Regions from separate parts of the Homo sapiens genome. Here regions 2, 3 and 4 are each linked to region 1. Evidence: fine-mapped expression QTL. A gene starts in region 1. Each other region holds a variant in brackets. All regions are shown on one strand. Distances are from middle to middle.

Region 1 (5,012 bases):
GCCAATAAGCATAAGAAAAAATATAGAATATGACTCCTCATCAGGAAAATGTGAATTAAACCACATAATTTAACCACCCAGGTCTCAGATATCCCAGGATACCCCTGGCCTTGAAATCTTCACACTGGCTCTTCACTCCAGCTCAAATACTCTTCCCAGATATGTGCATGGCTCCCTCCTTTCTTAAGGCCTGCAAGGGCTTGTTCCCGCCGGTCTTGCTAGTATAGACCCTGCTCATTTTCTCTCCCTCTTGCTTGCTGTTCATCACAAGGATGAAAATGGCTGTCCCCATACAGCTGGTGTGGTGTCAGCCTCCAGTGATTCCTATCTCTTGGTATATATAAACCTGTTTAGTTTCCTTCTATGACAAAGGGCCCACCCATGGAGCCAATAGATACTGCAGAAATTATGGCATGTGACTTCCAAGGCTAGGCTATAAAAGACACTGTGGCTTCTATCTGGCTCTCTTTTGGATTGCTCACTTTGGGAGAAGCTAGAAGCCATCTTGTGAGGATGCCCAAGAAGCCCACGTGGCTACAAACTGAGTCTTCCCATCCACACCTAGCACTAACTTGCTGAGCATGTGAGTAATCCACCTTGTGAGACTCCTCTAGCCCCAGCGAGCCTTCAGATAATGGCAGCACTGGCTGACATCTGACTGCAACCTCCTGAGAGACCCTGAGCCAGCACCATCTAGCTAAGTCTCTCCTGCCTTCTCGACCCAGAGAAATGGTGTGAAATAACGAATGTTTACTGTTTTTAGCTGTTAAATCGTGGGGCAATTTGTTATGTGGCAATTGATGACTAATACAGATGGAAAGGAATATGTTGCTCCAATTTGGCCTTGGACGTAAGCCATATTCTCTTAACCACTGAGAAAGCTTGTATTTTCATCCTTCCAACTTTGCTTTTTTTGTTTATCCTTCAGTTCAGAACCTACAGAAAGGGAAGGAGAGAGTGAGAGAGAAATGCCAAAAAAGAAAGCTTTAAAAGGCTTTTAAGAAATCATATGCAATATAACCCACATTTCTGACTCCACCCAAGAAACTGTCAGCAAAATATATGTTGCTGTTTAAACCTTTGAGTTGGGTTTGTGGGGCCTCAGTCATGTGAAAATAACACACAGATGGGGGCATGATGAGGTCATTTTCCTGAAGGTCACACAAAAATAAATGGCAGGGCTGCTGATGAAATGGTTCTGGAGCCACATGCTCACGCTGTGTGAAGTGGAAAGCAAAGGTGCTGGGACCACCTTCTCCGAGCTGCACAGCACCACGGAAAGGACACAGCATTGCTGAGGGAGGGGTTTTCCAGGGCAGGTTCAAGACCCTTCTCTGCAGCCCCTGTTGGGTTTTCCCTAGATCCAGAAGAGAGGGGTGTGGAACTAAGTGCTTCAGCACCTACTCTTAAAACATTACTCTAAAAGCATCCTTAAGGATTCTAAGGGAAGCTAAAGGGAGGAAAACCCCAAAGATAAACCCCTGGCAGTCCTCTAACCACTGGGGAGAGCAGCCCCCCCGTTCAGACCCGCACCAGCCTGGGCAGAGGAACAGCCTGAGCCCGTCTAAGAAGTTTGGTAATAATTTTGCCATCCAGTTGAGGAGGGGCTAGGATCTTCTCCCATTCTCCTACTGGATTTACAGCAGCTCCTGGGAATGAGAACTGCGTGAGATATTTCCCTACACAAATTGGGTAGAGATAGCCGGACGCCTAAATACTTTTAACAGAGGTAACAAGCTAGAGCTGGCTTAGTCATTTTGTCCGCAGACCATAGCAAGAGAGTTTTTATTTCTGGCCACGTCTGAGGCCTCACGTCTGGCACCCAAGGCCAGGGCTCTCCCTAATGCCCTCCAATTAACAGAGCTTGGTACTCCAGCAAAAACACCAAACAAACTGCTGGATAATCAGTTAAAAGATCAATCTCATGGAACAAGCAACTGAGATGCTGGAGAATCCAATTCCTTCCTCTAAGAGGAAAAACAAAGACATTTGCATGTGCTGAGCAAAACCAAGAATAAGCAAGAAAACATGCTATTTGAATTCCGTTCAAAATGTCTCTAATAAGTGAAGCAAATTCTGCACATTCTGGGCCTCTGCAGAGAACAAATAGTGTTCTGCCTTTAATGGGTAAAATTATACAATTTGCTTTTAACAGTAAACCAAAAGCCGCGGTGGCTTCGGATAGCATCGCGCTCCCGAGGGCTCCCTCCACGCAGCTCGACCCCTGGCAGTTTTGAGCATTTCGGGGGACGCGCTTGTCCCCACCGACCTGGGAGGGCGCCGGTGCCAAGGCGGCCTGTTTGTTTTCCTGAACATTTCCTTTTGCAACTTTCGCTTCTCCTCTTCCTGCCTCACCGCTGGTGTCTGGGGCTGGGTGGCTCTCAGATTTGTCCCGGTGCGCAGTGCAGCCTGGAGTTACTGATTTGTGACCTAGATCCCCGGGTGTGTCGCCCCCGAAAGTCGGGGGCACCCGCTCTGGGCGCCTCTCCTGCGTGGGCAGACCCGCCGAACTCCGGCTGACGCCCCCAAGGCGCCACCTTTGTGTTCAAGCGTTCCGAGGCGCAGGCCCGAGGGCGGGCGCAGGAGGCAGGTCCGGGGCCCCAGCTGCAGCCCCAGCTCCTTGGGTCCCGCCCGCCGCCCGCGCGTTCCCCCGGCAGGGGGCGCCGGCGCAAGCCTCGCTCTGCCCATCGGGGCGGGCGAGCGGGGACCCTGCCTCCTGCGCGCTCGCCCGCGGTCCGCCCCCCGCGCTCGTCCTGGCGGCCGGCGGGACGCCCCAGCCCGCGCCAAGGAACCTCCCCAGCCAGCCCTTGCCGTGGCCGGAGCCGAGCGGCGCATCCGGGCCGGAGAAGAGGACGACGACGAGGTCCTCGAAGTGGACCCGTTTGCGAAGCGCCAGGGAGAAGGAGGAGCGGACGCATCGTAGAAAGGGGTGGTGGCGCCCGACCCCGCGCCCCGGCCCGAAGCTCTGAGGGCTTCCCGGCCCCCACTGCCTGCGGCATGGCCCGGGGCTCGGCGCTCCCGCGGCGGCCGCTGCTGTGCATCCCGGCCGTCTGGGCGGCCGCCGCGCTTCTGCTCTCAGTGTCCCGGACTTCAGGTAGGATCTGGCGTTCCGGCTTGTGCGCAGACGGTAGCTCACGGCTCGCTTGGCCAGCCCTTCCGCCGCCACTATGCTCCCGGCCGCTGCGCCGGCGCCCATGCTCCTGAACGAGGGGCGCCAGGCAGGGCCATTCGCATCTCGCCCGACGCCGCTCCCGGCCCGCACCCCGGACCCCCTCGGGCTGGTTACAATAAGCCGCGCTCTGGGGACGCCTAAGTGTTTCCAGAGTCTGGGGGCGGGCGGCGGCGGCTGGGAGCCTCTCGGTGGCGCTTCCCGAGGGTCGCGAGTGGGAGTGCGAGTGTGAATGTGAGTACCCGCCCTGGGCCCGGGACCCGAGTCCGCAGATGTGCCCCGAGGGTCCCAGGACCCGGGCTTCCTCCCCGAGGTCTTCCTCCTTCAAGGGCACACGGCCCCGAGTGTCCCCCGTCTGTCTCGGAGCGTCCCCCCACCCCCAGGGCGGCCTGATGCCTGGCAGAATCCTGGGGTGGACGTGGCCCCGGAGAAGCGGCTCTTGCGGCGGGGGTGGGGGCGCCGGCGGCTCCCGGGTCCTGACTTTCCCAGCCCGCGGGCCGCTTGATGGAAACGGGCTCTTTGGCATCCCTTTTGTTGGTCCCTGAAACCTCCTCTCCCCCACCGCTCTGGGGTGGCCGAAGTGGTGTGTGATCTGGATTGAAATGGTTTGTGACTGGGATCGCGGGTCCCTGAGCGGCTGGGGCGCGGCCGCCTTCTGGCCGCGCCGGGGGGACCCCCGGGACCTGTAGGAGGCTGGCGGCGGGAGGGGCGGGGCCCGGCTCCTAGGTGGGTTTCCTCCCGGGGCCCCACTTCCCCCGAGTCCCTGCGCGGTTTCGGCTGCTTGGATCCGGGGCGCAGAGGAACGGCGGGGAGGTTCGGAAGTGCAGCTTGGGACCTGCCTAGGTTGCCTGGAGGAGGCGGCGTTAGCTCTGGCGGTGCAGACTCCGGGAGCACCTCCCGCCCGCGCGCCTCGGGCCGGATTCTCGGCACCCTGCGGGGGTGGAGGAGGGCGGGCGGGGCCTTCAGGCCCAGGAGCGCCAGAGACCTATGGGGTTCGCCTGAAGCCCCCGGAATGTGTGAGACACTTCTTACTAGTAAATGGGCTTCAGTATCCCCCATCCCTGCACTCCTGCAGGAAGGTGAGAATCGGGACAGTCGCAGGCTGGGAGACGCTCTGCTTTTCCTGCGTCCTGCTGGGAGCTGCGCGCTCCAGGTATCCTGGCCTGCCGCCCTAGCCGGCCCAAGGTACGCGAGTCAGAAAGGCTGCACAGTCTTTCCTGGGGGGGGGTTTTAGTTTAAGCAGATGTTGATTACGTCAGACATTCCTAATTACTTGATTTGGGAAGGGAGCTTGCGTTTATCTCACTGTGCATTAAAGCATAAACCGCTCAGAGTGCACAATAAAATAAGTAGACCACATTCTAAGTTGGTATCCATCACTCAAGACCTCTGTCGATTTCTGCAACCCCTCCCCCAAGAATCTCCCAGGAGATCCCTTTGCTGGGGGAGAGGGGTGGCGGGGAGGCGGCTTAAACACGTTGCTGGACGTGCTGTTGGGCGGCTTTTGCTGTTCACCCTGCGGTTAATTGTCCTACAAAAACTCTGCCTTGCAGACCATGAGGGTTGAGCGCAGCCTTTGAGGGGCGGTGCTGTGGTGGGGGTTTTTAGATGGGTGATGAGGAAAGCATGATGGGTCCATTGCTTAAGCCAAGGTGGTTGTAACAGGAAAGTTCCTTGAGTTTTGGGTGAAGGAATTTAAACACTCATAGTTTCCAGTGAATGTACAAATGTCTTATATGAACAAAGCAATTGGAGTCGTTTTCTTTAATTTTTGAACCCTGTTCTTTTTCTAGTGAAATACTCATAATCTTTATAGGAGAGGGCATAGGATATAATTCTCTTC
Region 2 (5,012 bases), 48 kb after region 1:
CATGTGACATTTGTGTATGTCTTGTGTGTGGTGTATGTGCTGTGTGTGTGGTGTGTGTGCGCACACGTGTGTTCTGCAGCTGTGCACCTTGGAGCCGTCCCAGGTAGTAAGCCAGAATGGAGGCAATAATGAGTGATGAGCAGTTTGTTTTTTCCCTTTTTGGAGGCTTTGCCTCATTAACTTGGAACCAGAGGTTCCTGAGGCCACGGGTGGCAGAGTCGAGGAGGCCTCCAAAGCCAGCAGTGGAGCGTAGGAGCCAGGGCGCTGGGGTGGAGATGGGATCTTTACAGCCTGGAAGGGACATCCTGTGTGTCTTGCTGCCTGCCACTGGGTGCCCTCCTATAGTGTTGGTGGCTGCTCCAAGCGCCAAGGCACCCCCACCATGGGCCTGAAGCCTGATTCCACTTCCTTGCTCCACAAGGCTGGGCCACCCTCTGCCTGGTCTCTCCAGGCTGTGACTGGATGGCTTTTCTCCAGGGCGATGGCCTGTTGGTCGTGGCGCAGGTCCTACCGCTCCCTACCCCAGCCCTTGGGCCTTCCAGCCCTTTATGGACTGAGCCCGCCTGACTGGAACATTCTTGGGCTCTTGGTGCTAGGAGGGCAGTGGGCTCCACCCGCTAAACTTGTGGCATCCTCAGGTCAGGTGAACAAGGCACAATGGAGGCAGGGAGCTCTGAGTTTCTGATCTGAGGAACCTCCTCACCCCGGGATCCTTCCATGATCCCTGGTGCCAAATCTGGCTTTGTGGTTAAAAAAGGATGACCTGGGCCCGGGTGTGGTGGTGCATGCCTGTAATCCCAGCTACTCGGGAGGCTGAGGCAGGAGAATTGCCTGAACCTGGGAGGTGGAGGTTGCAGTGAGCCGAGATCCTACCACTGTACTCCAGCCTATGCGGCAGAGCGAGACTCTGTCCCCCCCCCCAAAAAAAAACAAAAACAAAAACAAAAAATCAAAAAAAAGGATGACCTGTCAGGGCAGTGATTCCTACCTTGTGGGATGGTTCACATGTTTCTTTGAATATCTAAAACCACTCTCCTTTAAAAATATTTCAGCTGTTCACTGACTGTATTTTTGGAAATTAAATGGATATTGTTTTGAGAATGCAGCAATATCCCTTTAAATACGTAAAATAAGTATGGGCATTTTATTGCCGTGGACTCTCTCCACGACCCCAGTCTGAGGTATTTTTATGAGCTCCTAGTAAACCCCGTCTCAAGCCAATTGCGTTTGTTTTTGTTCCTCTTTGTCTACAGAGTTGTCGAATGCTCACCGGGAAGGGGTGGGCAGTTGTCCCTTTGGGGATGTTGAGAATGTGGGGAAACCACTTCCCATTTGCTGACTTAGGGGCTGGTTTAGGAGAAAATCTTTGTTCTTCCCTTTACAGAAAATATTTAGGTTGGGGTTGTTTGTTCCAGAAGTGTCTGCCTTGAAAATACTCCATGGAAGAATTTGGAGATGTAGGAATGGCTTAAGTTTTGACTTGAGGAGAAAAAAAAAAGACACAACGAATCGACTTCTTGGGGCCACAGACCACTCCAGCAGCCTCATTTCCATTTATTTTGGGGGCTTGTGTTGTAGAAGTGAGTTGATGCCCGATGGGAAGAACTGGAGCAGATCACCCTTCCCAGACTTTCTTGGGCAGGGGAAGCCAGCGGGTTGGGGTGTGGGCATCTGAGACCCCTCCATGCAGCATCTATCTGGGTTCCTCCTGGGCCGACTGCAGTCAGGGGCACAGAAAAAAAATCCTGTTGCTCTCTGGATGTGGCAGTTTTAATTTTCCATGCACTCATACTTTAGGGGAGAACATGTATTTTTTTTATTTGCTTTTGTTTAAGTATATGTATTTTTTTCTTTATCATAGTAAAATATGCATATCATGGAATTTACCATCATAAGTATTGTTTGGTGGCATTAAATGCATTCATATTGTTTTGCAACCATCACCGCCATCCACAGAACTCATTTCATCATCCCCGACAGAAACTCTGCACCCATTAAATAATGCCTCCCCCATCTCCTCCCCCAGACCCTGGCAGCCACCGATTCTACCTTCTGTTTCTATGCATTTGACCACCCTAGGGACCTTGTAGAAGTGGAACATGCAGTCTATGTCCTTCTGTGACTGGCCCGGTTCCCTTAGCATGCCTTCGAGGCTTATCCATGTTGCAGCATGTGTCAGATTTCCATTCCTAAGGATATGGTTTTTAAATAGTCATTTGTTTTGCCAGTGCAGATAAAATGTTTACATATTAACTCCATGCTGATGAAGCGGTTTCTTCTTACAGTGAGCTTAACAGTGTCCCTTTCTTGTTGCTTCAGTTGAGACTGAGCTCTCCAACTGATGCTGGATGTCTCAGGGAGGGCCCCATGGTGTCTGTTGGGGGT[G/C]GGGGCAGGGTCGCCCAAGGAGGGCCCTTGGTGTTAACGGAGATCCTTGGCAGTTCAGGAGGTCTCAGGCGGCTCACAGCCACGACCACCCAGCTCCCCATCGGGAACTGCTTTTGAGATCTGTTTTCAGTAGGGGCCTGAGGCGTGGGAAGGCCCTGGCTGTGAGAGGTACAAGCAGGGTGGGCTTGGTGGAGAGGTGATGGAGGGCCTGGGATTTGGGTTTCCTGGAGGGAAAGAAGGGAAAAGACCCTGACAGCGAAGGGGAAGTTTACTTCATTTTGTGATACCTGAGGATAGAAATTGAGCTTTGGTTTAGAAATGAGATATTTCTACTATGAAGAAAGAATTAAAGGAAAATTGAGAAAACCTTTAAAAATAATTGTTTCTCCTTCCTCTTCTTTGTTGTGTGAGTATGCATCTCTTACTTGTTGACTACTTAGATGAATCAGGCCGTCATCTGTGGTGGGGAGCCCTTGTGAGTTACTAAATATTTCATCTCCATGAGCCCCAGTTTCTGCATCTGAAAAATAGGAATGTTAACCGTTGTGTGGATTAAATGTTGGGACTGGTTGAATGAATTGAGGGAGGTATTCTGTGCGAATGGCCTCTTTTCAAGTGCCTCTGGCTCTGTTGGCCTGCTGCTCCAGAATTGAGGGTAGGCCCCCCCACCTACACCTGGCAAAGGTACAACTGACTTTTCCTCACACAGTAGCTATGGAAAAATAAACAAAGCTCCTTTTTATTTTTTGCTTTTTTTTTTTTCAGAGCACTCTTTTTTTTTTTTGAGATGGAGTCCCAGGCTGGAGTGCATTCGTGAGATCATGGCTCGCTGCAACCTCCACCTCCTGGGTTCAAGCAGTTCTCCCGCCTCAGCTTCCTGAGTAGCTGGGATTACAAGCGCATGCCACCATGCCTGGCTAATTTTTGTATTTTTAGTAGAGATGGGGTTTCATCATGTTGGTCAGGCTGGTCTCAAACTCCTCACCTCAGATGATCCGCCTGCCTTAGCCTCCCGAAGTGCTGGGATTACAGGTATGAGCCACCACACCCATCCCAGAGCACTTTTATTTTTAACCCCCTGTAGAAGGCAGATAATGTACTGAGCCCACATTTGAAATGACGTGAGCCTTTTCTCCTGTTGGAAAACAAAGATCTTAGTTCTAAGTGGGTGGGAAGATAAGCCAGTGAGGAAGGACACTGTTGGTTTGATTATACTTGAGGCAACTAGTAAACTATCACTACCTCCTAGTTATTGGTGTTTCATGATATCCCACAGGTATCAGAAACATTCACAAACTACTGACATGCAGATTTGCATTTCCCATGGGTACAGTTGGAGATAGTCTAACTTATACTAAATATGCTGTATAATTTATGTGTTATACATACCATGTAACATAGTATACCTATTTATAGTATAGTTTGCATTTCAGAAGAATATAGTTGGGCTGTCAAGTAACACAGTTTTACAAGACAGTTCTTTTCTCTAGTTGAAGGATGGTGGAGTGGAGGGGGATTCTGCCCGACCTTCCTGGCTCTGGATTCAGTCTGGCTGAGCTGAGGGGCCCCTTGTGCAGCTTCCTCGTAGTACACATTAAAAACCCTTCAGCTTAAAAAACAATCTGCCCAGAAAAGGGATTTATAGTCCAGTATCTGATTAAACGATGTGTGTTTCAGTTCCCAGAACTTTGCTTCCTAGTTGCTCTTTTTAATTAATAATGGATTTCCTTCTTAAAAACAGATGTGCATTCTTGGCTTATTATTTTTTTCCCTTCAAGCTGGAACCTATGCCTCTGTTTGCACAGAATTGAGGTGTGAAGTGGGTCTAATGGTCCTGACAATTTGAAGGACTTTTAAGCCTGTGGTTTTGTGACAAGTGCTGACTCTAGGTGGGAGTGGCCTTGGCGGCCCAGCTGCCCCCAGTCCATGGAACCGACGTGCCCCGCGAGGAGTCCTCTCCTGGGGCCTGTCCTGGTTCACTGTCAGCACTCTCTTCCAGAAGCTTGTCGTTTTCCCGCCTCCTTGGCTGCTTTTGAATGTTCTGGATGCCACGCGGTGCCTTCCTCATTTCTTGTTTCCTGCGGGTCCCACGTGCAGGCCCGGCGCCCTCGTGTCCCTGCCAGCCTCTCTTGCTCCAGGCAGCCGGAGGATTGCCCCGCGCCGCCACCGTTCCCTGCGTGGGGGGGCCTGCGCCAGGGTCGGCTGCCTGCTGTGCCTCTCAGCCGCTGTCATTGACCATCTTGTGCGGGAGGCAGCTGGAGGACTTGCGTCTGCCGTCTGCCCTTCCTGCAGCCCCTTGCGGCGTCCAGTTTGCTTCTGCTTCTGCGCTTGGGCCTCTGGATGCGAGGCTGCTGGGGCCCTGCCCCCCACCCCCTGGCGGCCCTGGGGGACCCGCTGCATCCTGAGCTTATCTGGGGGCCTGCCCAGCACTGGAGGGAGGCTTATCTGGAGCCCTGCTGACTTGCTGTCTGTCAGTTTGCAGGCTTTAAAACTTATCTTACTGGTGAGTGCATCTAGTGGGTTCCAGGCTGGCATTCTTTTGGTCTCTAGGTACTTATCGATTAATGTTTTACTAAATTATCAAGCCTGCATTCACAGGTCAAATGTAGATTTTATACTTTAATAAA
Region 3 (5,012 bases), 27 kb after region 1:
GCAACCGCGCCAGGCCTAGGATGTCTTCTTAAGTGTGCACGCAAATCATGCAGGAGAAATTAGGCAGAGTGCGTGGAAGCCAAGTGACTTGTTTCTCACCAGGAGGAAACCCCATCTCTGAGGTCAGTTGGTGGCTTCTCTACCCAGGTGTCTGTTGAACCCAGAGTGGTGTCACACCTCAGGATCGGTCCCCCAAATTCTGTGCAATGAAAGGGTAGAGTGAGCGAGTTTTCTTCTCTCTGGCTCTCTGGCAAGCACTCTTGACATAGGATTGCTGTTACTCTGTATTTGAGTTCCTATGGATTATCCATCTGTTGGTTTTCTGCCATCCAAGAAACTTAGGTGTGTGCATGTATTTGGGGTTGGAGGATAAGGATGGCGAGGGCATTGGGAATTGGGGCTTGTGTGGAGGTAAGTCATAAGTTTGAGAAGAAATGGGTGCATGTGCCAGGCACCAAAACAAGTGCATATGCATGCTGCACACACACACACACACACACACACACACACATACAGGCAGCTGACAGCATTGTCAGGGGTGTGTACCTGTGAGCTCACTTGTGCTGAGCAAGGACAGAGCTTGCCGAGCTGGGGGCTGGGTCTCGTGGGCTTGGGCTGAGCTGTTGGGATGGCTGAAGGCTGTATCTTGGGGGAAGTGCGTTCTTGAGAGCTGTGTAAGTTAATGTCTATGAGATGAGCAGATGGTTGGTGTCATGAGGGTGTCCTCTTCTAGAAGACTAGGGCCCTACAGCGATGGTTCTCTCAGTGGTGTCTCTGGACCACTGGCATCAGCATCACCTGGGAGCTTGTTAAAAATGCAAACATGGTCAGGTGCAGTGGTTCACACCTGTAATCTCAGCACTTTGGGGGAGGCCAAGATGGGAGGATTACTGAGCCCAAGAGTTTGAGACCAGCCTGGGCAACATAGTGGGATCCTATCTCTACAAATAATAATAATAATAAAAAATAGCCAGGTGTGGTGGCTCGTGCCTGTGATCCCAGCTACTTGGGAGGCTAAAGTGAGAGGATTGCTTGAGCCTGGGAGGTTGAGGCTGCAGTGAGGTATGATTGTGCCACTGCACTCCAGCATGTATGACAGAGCTAGACCCTGTCTCAAACAAACACACAAACAAAACAAAAAAAGCAAACTCTTGGGCCTGCCCCGCGTCTGTTGAATCAGAATTTTTTTTTTTTTTAGATGGAGTCTCGCTCTGTCGCCCAGGCTGGCGTGATCTTGTCTCACTGCAAGCTCCGCCTCCTGGGTTCCCGCCATTCTCCTGCCTCAGCCTCCCAAGTAGCTGGGACTACAGGCGCCCGCTACCACGCCTGGCTAGTTTTTTGTATTTTTAGTAGAGATGGGGTTTCACCGTGTTAGCCAGGATGGTCTCGATCTCCTGACCTCGTGATCCGCCCGCCTCTGCCTCCCAAAGTGCTGGGATTACAGGCGTAAGCCATCGTGCCCGGCCTGAATCAGAAATTTTGAGGTGAACTCAGCAATCTGTGCCTCTCTAATGCACGTAAAAGTTGAGATCCACTGGCTGTGATTCCCATAGAGGGCCTGGGACAGGAGGACGCAGGCAGAAGCCACTGGCCTTGAAGCTGCCTGTCACTCCACCACAAGGGACTGAGACCCGATGGACACCTTCCTCCAGTCCTCCCCTTGCCTCTCTCCACCGCAGGGACTAGGAGGGATGGCCGGGCAGTCCCCAGCGTGACCACAGGATGCCTGATGTTGGGAGTGGGGACAAAGGATAGGAAAAGGGCTGGGCAGCAGGAGGGATCACCTACCATGGAGGACAAAGACCTTGCCCTCAAGTGTCCCTCCCATTCATGGAGTACCAGCTCAGTTCTACTCAGTGCAGACAGGCAGCAGAACAGCAGCTTGGGGAGAGCAGGAAAGAATCAGCTGCCAATGTTGTAGTGGAGACGGATTTCAGGGCCTGATGAGGGTCCAAGTATGGACTGCAATTGGGATGCATGAGAACATCCTCAAACCCTGGAATAGGAAGGCACCCATGTGCCCTGATTTCTCCTCGGCTCTCATTCCAGGAGCCACACAGGACAGTTGACCCAACACTTCTGCCACCTGAAGAACGACACCTGCATTCCTCCATCTCTGGGACCACCAAGGAACTCAGGGAGCTTGGAATCTCTCAGATCAAAAAGATACTGACTCATCGGATAGCCATGCCATCCTGAAAACGGCCTTCCTTGTGTGTACATTATTTGCAACAAGCAACAAGTTTATAAGCACTTTGGTAAAATTGCATGTGAGGGTTAAAATATTAAAGTCAGTGCGTCAACTTGAAATAAATGATGAGTTATTGATTACTGCTAAAGAAAAAATGTAATATTTGTGGTCCTGTTATGGTTTAGATGTGAATTTTAAAAAGAAAGCCTTTGTTCAGAGTTTTGCACATTTCCTCAACCCTGGGTCTCCAGAGCTTTGTTTTGCTTGCCAAGTCTTAAATTAGCCATCTGCAAATTTCCT[T/G]ACCTTGGGTATTTCTGGATATAGGAGGATGCCCAGGGTGTGCATTGTTCTGTAGCTGTACCGTCCAATTGATAGCCATTAATCACATGTGGCTATTTAATTGAAGTTAACTCAGACTGAATAAAATTACAAACAGACCCTTGGCTGCACTAGCCAAACTTAAGTGCTCAGTTGCCACATACCACATGTGGCTGGAGGCCACACTGGACAGTGGAGATAGAGACACTCTCCCTCTTCACAGCAAGTTGGGCAGTGCTGCTTTATACTGCCTCATCCCCAGCATTTTGGCCAGTCATAAGTACTTTCTGAGCACCTGCTCTGTGCCTAGAGGCTGCTAACTTGTTAGCTTATTGAATAAAATACATTGGGCATCTTCTCTGTCCAGGTGATCACTGAATTCCTTGGCATAGCTACTTAGGTAACAGACATCTATTCTTTGGCATGAGGGAGAGGCTTTATGTATGTGAAGATGGAATGGAGCTGTATTGGGCAGTGGGGAGTGGGGAGGTCATGCCCAGCAGAAGTGAGGCAGAGTGAGTCTGTTGGAGGACAGGGCTTTGAGAGGCAGGCTGCCCCAGTGTGCACCCAGAAAGGAGGGCAAAAGGCTGAGCAGCTGGACTGGGGTTGGATGCAGCAGCTATGCAGCTGATTTGGAGAGCCTGACATGAGAGGACACTGAGGAGTCGACAGGTTTTGGAGAAGATTCCCATCTAATAGTTTTAAAAAATATTCTTGGTCGGGCGCGGTGGCTCCTGCCTGTAATCACAGCACTTCAAGAGGCCAAGGCAGGTGGATCACGAGGTCAGGAGATCGAGACCATCCTGACTAACATGGTGAAATCCTGTCTCTACTAAAAATACAAAAAATTAGCCGGGCATGGTGGTACGCGCCTGTAGTCCCAGCTACTTCGGAGGCTGAGGCCGGAGAATCGCTTGAACCTGGGTGGTAGAGGTTGCAGTGAGCTGAGATCATGCCACTGCACTCCAGCCTGGGCAGCAGAGTGAGACTCCATCTCAAAAAATAAAAAATAAAAAAATTATTTAAGTAGAACAACATTCAGTATGGACATCAAACTGTTGATATTTAACCTGTTTCTTATTTGATTGCAAGGAAGATGGGACTCAGAGAAGACGCTGTTGATTTCCAAGTAACATTTCATTCACAAGTCTTCAATTTCTTTTGGGTACATACCTAGCAGTAGAATTTCGGATCACATGGTCATTCCATGTTTTTTTTTTTGGGGAACTGCCAGACTTTTCCACAGTGGCTGCACCATTTTGTATTCTCACCAGCAGTATTCCAGGGTTTTAATTTCTCTACGTTCTCAACAGTACTTGTTTTCTGTTTTTGTTGTTGTTGTTTGTTGTTGTTGTTGTTGTTGTTGTTGCTGTTGTTTGGTTTTTTGGTAATAGTCGTCCTAGTCCTAATGGCTGTGGAGTGGTCTCTCATTGTGATTTTGATTTGCATTTTCCCAGTGACTAATGATGACATCTTTTCATGCTCTTTTTGGCCAGTTGTGTATTTTTTTTTTTTGGAGAAATGTCTATTCAGATCCTTTGCCCAATCTCACCTTGGGTTGTCTTTTTATTATTGTTGTTAGAGTTTCATTTACTTTTTTTTTTTTTTTTTTGAGACGGAGTCTCTGTTGCCCAGGCTGGAGTGCAGTGGCGCGATCTTGGCTCACTGCAACCTGTCTCCCGGGTTCAAGCGATTCTCCTGCCTCAGCCTCCTGAGTAGCTGCGACTACAGGCGTGCGCCGCCACGCCTGGCTACTTTTGTGTTTTTAGTAGAGACAGGCTTTCACCATGTTGGCCAGGCTGGTCTCCTACTTCTGACCTCAAGTAATCCACCCGCCTGGGCCTCCCAAAGTGCTGGGATTACAGGCGTGAGCTACCACACCCGGCTTCATTTACTTTTAAAAGACTAAACATTACCATCCCCTTGAAGTTAGAAGGGAAGAACTTGGTGACACAAAGAGGCCTGCGGCTTGGTCTGCAATTAAGCACAGGCTCTTGAAAAGTGTCCTCTTTTGCCAGTGTGGTTTGGGATTTCCACAGCCTCTGCATTCTATTCCTGATTCTGCTTTACTTTTGCCATATATGTAAGTGTGTGTATACGTGTATATATTTAAGAACGGAGGAAAAAATATAATTACTTTTAATTTGGAATTCCTGTTTTAACTTTCCCCTATATTAAAGAAGGACTGATTTTGCATGTACTTAGGCTGAAGTAGCCACTTCTTTGTTGATATGGGGTTGAGGTCTTGATTCATTTTTTCCTGCAGGTCAGAGAGCACTAGGACATGCCCAGGGCCAGTTTGTGGGACCCTTTGTGGGGAAGGGACAGTGCTTCTCCTGTCCGCTACTTCTTGTGGCTGGCCACCTGCCATTTGGCACCTGGTTGAGGATGGGACATGAGTGTCCACTCCACAGTGCTGTGTTCACCCCCTCGGGTGGAGGTCCAGTTTGTTGGCAATGATACTGCACACAAGCTGTCTGAGGCTTGGCTATCCTAAACAGTC
Region 4 (5,012 bases), 64 kb after region 1:
GACGCATGGGCAGGGAGGCAGAAGTGTTGATTACAGCTTCAATCGCATCCCAGCCTGGCTTCACTTGTTCCTGGGTAGGACAGAGACATTAAGCCAGGAAGGAGTTTTAGGAGTGTCTTGCAGTAGTGGCTAGAGATCTAGGATGAAATGGTGTCTTCATTGAGTCTTGCAGGAGGGTATCAGCGTCCAGTGGAAGAGGAGGTTGTGATTCTTACCCAGGTGTGTTCCTGCATCTGCGTCCTCTAATCTGGCACTATTTGCTTCCCATTGAGCAGTGGTGTTTGTAGTCCATTGTTTGTACCTTTAAGTCTTTAAATCCATGTTCAGCTATGCTCTAAATAAATGGATCTCAAAAATATAAACAGGCAGTTCACTAGGAGGAGACCTTCCAAACACTCATGAACCTGGGAAACACAGTTAAAATCACAAGGAAGTAACATCAAATTCACAAAAGTCTAGAAAAAGCATTGATGCCATCAAATTTACAAAAATATAGAAGTCTGACAATACGAAGTGTTGGCAAAAATGTGTTATGGAGGCTGGGCATGGTGGCTCACGCTTGTAATCCCAGCACTTTGGGAGGCCGAGGCGGGCAGATCACGAGGTCAGGAGTTTGAGACCAGCCTGACCAACATGGCAAAACCCCGTCTCTACTAAAAATACAAAAATTAGCTGGGAGTGGTGGCTCGTGCCTGTAATCCCAGCTACGCAGGAGGCTGAGGCAGGAGAATTGCTTCAACCCGGGAGGCAGAGGTTGCAGTGAGTTGTGATGGCACCACTGCACTCCAGCCTGGGCGACAGAGTGAGACTCCATCTCAAAAAAAAAAAAAAAAAAAAAGAGAAAAAAAGTGTTATGGAGAGAAGAAGCTGCTGGAGGGCGTTGAATTTGTACGCCCCGTTATACCTACATTATTGGGCAATTTAGCAATTACTGGAAAAGCTGAATCATGCTTCTCCTACTCAGTGCAATTGCATTCCCAGGCATAGGTCAGAGAACCCCTCAGATAAGGGCGCAAGGAAACCATAAGGGGAATGTTCATAACAGCTTTGGAATTTGCAAAAACTGCAAGTAACCCAAATGTTCACCCACAGAACAGTGGGAAAAAACTTGTGATATATTTATTGACTGGAGCCACATGTTCAAACATAGATCTCACAGCTTAGCATTGAGCAGGAAATACAAGTTGTAGGAGGCTTGATATTTATGTAAAGGTTAAACCTATGCAAGGAAATCTTGCGTACTGCTCTGGGATACATACTGTAGGGAAGTACTATATTAATATAAACTCAGGATTGTGGGTGCCATTGGAGGGGGGCTCGAGAAAAGAATAAGCCTTTCATTTGGCCTGGTGTGTTCATTCACTTTTTTGGAATGCATCTGAAATATTACATACCAAATTAAAATACTGTGTTTCCAAACCTATAAAACCGATGGCAACTTTCAAATAATTGGATGTTAGAAATGGAACTCTCAAAAGATTTCCTCCTCCCCACGAATGTACCCTTTGCCTAGGATGGGAGGCTGTCACCTGGAGTAGCAACCCAAGGCCCTCGACCGCAGGGGTCCTAGCAAGCCTTGCCTTTGTGCATCTGCTCTGGGAGCCAGAGAAGTTGAAAGCGGCCTCACTCGGGATTTTTGAAGAGGTTGTATTTCCCGACAGTCCTGGATAAAAGACACGGCAGGCAGTCTGACTGTCAGGGGAGTCCCTTCTGGGTCTGTATTTATATATCCCTAGGAATCCTCTCCTGCGGGCTCTTAAATGGTAAGTAGTGGGTTCGTGACCTGTGGTGAGAAGAAAGATGCCCCAGCAGGTAACGTTATCTTTTCCTTTCATCTGTGAATCTCCCTGCTGCAGGCAAAGCACCCCTGAGTCCTGCAATTACGGCCTTCCCACCCCCAAGCTGAAAAACCTGATTTTCTTCAGGAGAAGAGAAACCTCATCCCGGGAGCGGAATTTGGTTTGTATTTCCCGAGTAGAGGCGGTGTGGTCAGGGATAGCTTAACCCTCCGGAGCAGCCCGGGCCGGGGGTTGCCGGGAAGGGCGGGGCGGGGGAGTGGTGGTCGCGGGTCCCCTCGTGAGGGCAGGAAGAGGCTGTGACTCGGGCGGAGGGGCTGCCGCGCCGTGCGTGGGTGCACAGTCGGTGGTGTAAGCAGAGACCCTGGTGTAGACAGATCGCGGTGTGGGGAGGAAGCAAGTGGGTGTGCAGAGGCCGTGGTGTAGACACACG[C/T]CGACGTCTACCGGCCCACGCTGTCGGTCCAGTTCTGTCTAGCTCTGCACCCTGGAAATGGCGAGGGGAGGGGGAGAATGATGGCCCTGGTGGGTCCCCGCTGGCTCCAACAATCTGGGCTGTTCACATGGCCTCCTCTCCTGCTCCTCTAAATGTGAAACCCCTTTAAGATGGCATCTTTATGTCTCCAGAAGATAAATGCGCCTTTTAAAAAGTAACCATGGCCGGGGGCGGTAGCTCATGCCTGTAATCCCAGCACTTTGGGGAGGCTGAGGCGGGTGGATCAGTTGAGGTCAGGAGTTCGAGACGAGCCTGACCAACATGGTGAAATCCCGTCTCTACTAAAAATACAAAATTAGCCGGACGTAGTGGTGCACACCTGTAATCCCAGCTACTCGGGAGAGGCTGAGGCAGGAAAATCGCTTGAACCCCGGAAGCGGAGGTTGCAGTGAGCTGAGATTGCGACATTGTTCTCCAGCCTGGGCAAGAAGAGTGAAATTCTGTCTCAAAAAAAAAAAAAAAAAAAAAAGGAAACCATACTGCTACTTAAAAAGGCACTTCCTAATATAAAATATTCACAGTTCACATTTTCCTGTTTATTTCATGAGTTTTGTTTTATTTTGTGTGTTATTCAACAGGATTTAGATAAGACCTAGGTATTTTGATTCGTTGATTTGATTTAAACGCATCACAGTGGTCATGTGGGAGAAAAATCAGAACCTTGGGGCAGGGCTTTTGTAGATCACTTTTAGGGTTCCCTGTTATTTCTATTTGGAATTACATTTTGGCGGGGACCAGCATGTTTCCAGATCTCGGTCTCACCCAGGCATTTGGCCTCTCCTTCCCTTAGGTCCCATGTCATAGCCACCCTGGTGCAGGCCCAGGCGGGAGCCACACGCTGCTCAGTCCTGGGGAATCCCAAGCCCCTCCACTCTGTGCAAGGAATGGAGATAATGGGCTGAGAATTAGGTTTTATTAAAAGCAAAGCCCTTGAAGGATGGTTATTCCCGCCTGGAGATCCCACAGTAGGGCCTTTGGAGTGATAGACATCCCCATCTCCCTCCACACCCTGCCCTACCGCCCCCCAACCCCCAAAGCTTCAACAAAGGCTCCTTTTTAAAGTTTTCCGGTGCCCTTTGCTCTTTGTTTGCCTTCCCGCTTTGTTCTCTGGCCAGCTGCAGGCCACACTGCCATTTGGAAAGGAGTTTCCTTGGGTTTGATTGACAAATGGGAGAGAATTGGGATGCAGAGGCTCATGCCTTCCAGAGAATATTTTGGAGAAAGGTGGGAACTAGAGAGAGCTGCTGGCTTTGCAATGTTGGGTTCTGAGAACTACCAGGGGTGGGGTTCGTGAGCCACACACAGGCTTGTTAGCTCTTTAAGTTCGCGAGGCTTTAAGTTCTTAAGGCTTTGTAAGCTTGCAGTGATAACACAGAAAATACCAAGTTAAGGCAATAAAATGGTCTCCCCAACCAACTGATCACTTCCCAGCACAGGAAGTTGATGACTTAATTTAGAAAATATGATTTTAAAAATTGGCCTCAAAGCGTTTTTGGACTCAGTTCTGTGCATGTTAATATGTATCCAGATTATATCCTGACATTCATTTAGAAAAAAAAAAGACTAAAAAATTTTGCCAAACTGGAAATGGAGACATGTTATGGTCTGTGGATGGGAAGAGTCTTGAATGTGTATGACAGCCCGCAGGATGTGTTAGCTCCAGTTCCAGCCAAAAATCCAAGAGAGTAATGAGTTTGTCAGATATCGTCAGATCAGGGAGAAGATTTAGATAAAACCCTTCAGCATTAATATTCTGGCAATATTAAAAATTATCTTAGAAAACCAGGCCTGGGGATTGGGGAATGGAGAATACAGAATTTCTGTACCTAGAAGGCCCCCCGCAAGCCTTTTTTTTTTTTTTTAAAGGTAATCAAAGGTAAGTGGAGAGTAAGTAATTCTTTTTGTAGGCCAATTAGACAAGTCATGCCTGAAGCCTCCCCCCACCCCCCATGACTCCTGGAGGAGACTGAGACTCCCTGTCACAGGGGTACCCACCAACACACATCCCTGCTGGTTGAGATCTAAAATGCTTATCTGAACAGCCTTGGCTGGTCTGTTGCTGCCTGTGTTTATTTGGATGTATTTCAGCAGAAGCCATCACACAGACAGGAGAGGTGGGTTTTATGAGATGGTGTTGAATGAGGGACAGGTCAAACTGAAACCTAATTGACAGATGATCAGATTGGTGAAACCAGAGAGAAAAGAAAGGGATTAGTACTCAAGTACCTTGACTTCAGAAGTACAGAGCTTCCCTTTGGTGACTCCTTCAGCTCCATTTTTGTTGAGTGAGCTTTGGTTCTAGCTCCGTGGTAGGATGGTGAGTGTGCTTTCTCTCTGGGTTTCTTTTGTGTACTTGTCTCAATGGCCATAACATGGCACTGCATTGGTGTGAAATCCCCTGAGATTTTACCTCCAGATGCAACTCATGCTAGATAGGGGCCCTGGGTAGGGGGCTGAGAAGGGGGTTCCGAGGCCACCAGGACCTTGGAAGGGGAAGGGATTTTGGTGGTGATTTAAGCGCTAGCAAGGGCTCTGTTGGAAATGATTCACTAACTTCCTGCAAGGACACTTCAGAGGTGTGATGGGCAGTAGTACAGTGGGTGGGGTGTGTTTCTTGTTTGGAGTGAGAGAGGGTTCTGGTGCGTAGGAGTCTCATTCCAAGGCCTCTTGTCCATCAAATTCTGTTGGGCAGCACTGTCCAATAGAATTTTCTACAATGATAG

Direction of the effects. Positions count from the first base shown, and alleles are read on the strand shown. Sizes are in standard deviations (SD) of each study's normalised expression. Not every link is listed here.
As copies of C replace T in region 4, the expression in prefrontal cortex of the gene that starts at base 2,733 in region 1 goes up (moderate effect, 0.60 SD a copy in ROSMAP).

The links. PIP is the estimated chance that this variant, and not a neighbour inherited with it, causes the effect. A credible set is the group of variants that fine-mapping cannot tell apart.
Region 2: its variant is the best candidate, but not a certain one, in a credible set for the expression of ROR2 in thyroid (GTEx, PIP 0.57).
Region 3: its variant is the best candidate, but not a certain one, in a credible set for the expression of ROR2 in subcutaneous fat (GTEx, PIP 0.73).
Region 4: its variant is the best candidate, but not a certain one, in a credible set for the expression of ROR2 in prefrontal cortex (ROSMAP, PIP 0.58).

The regions. Positions count from the first base shown.
Region 1 is chr9:91,947,949-91,952,960 of GRCh38, reverse strand. It overlaps ROR2 (receptor tyrosine kinase like orphan receptor 2), which reads left to right and starts at 2,733. Exons shown (of 9, transcript NM_004560.4): 1 at 2,733-3,094. The coding sequence starts at 2,998. RefSeq lists silencers at 2,160-2,454, 2,568-2,747 and enhancers at 2,941-3,440, 3,441-3,942.
Region 2 is chr9:91,899,961-91,904,972 of GRCh38, reverse strand. All of the region lies in intron 1 of ROR2 (receptor tyrosine kinase like orphan receptor 2), which reads left to right. Among named protein-coding and RNA genes, the nearest start is that of ROR2, 48 kb to the left of the region's middle. The variant G/C (reference allele first, on the strand shown) is at 2,386.
Region 3 is chr9:91,920,966-91,925,977 of GRCh38, reverse strand. All of the region lies in intron 1 of ROR2 (receptor tyrosine kinase like orphan receptor 2), which reads left to right. Among named protein-coding and RNA genes, the nearest start is that of ROR2, 27 kb to the left of the region's middle. RefSeq lists enhancers at 3,508-4,348, 4,349-5,012. The variant T/G (reference allele first, on the strand shown) is at 2,492.
Region 4 is chr9:91,883,615-91,888,626 of GRCh38, reverse strand. The region is part of intron 1 of ROR2 (receptor tyrosine kinase like orphan receptor 2); the gene reads left to right. Among named protein-coding and RNA genes, the nearest start is that of ROR2, 64 kb to the left of the region's middle. RefSeq lists enhancers at 1,401-1,982, 1,983-2,566, 2,567-3,150. The variant C/T (reference allele first, on the strand shown) is at 2,230.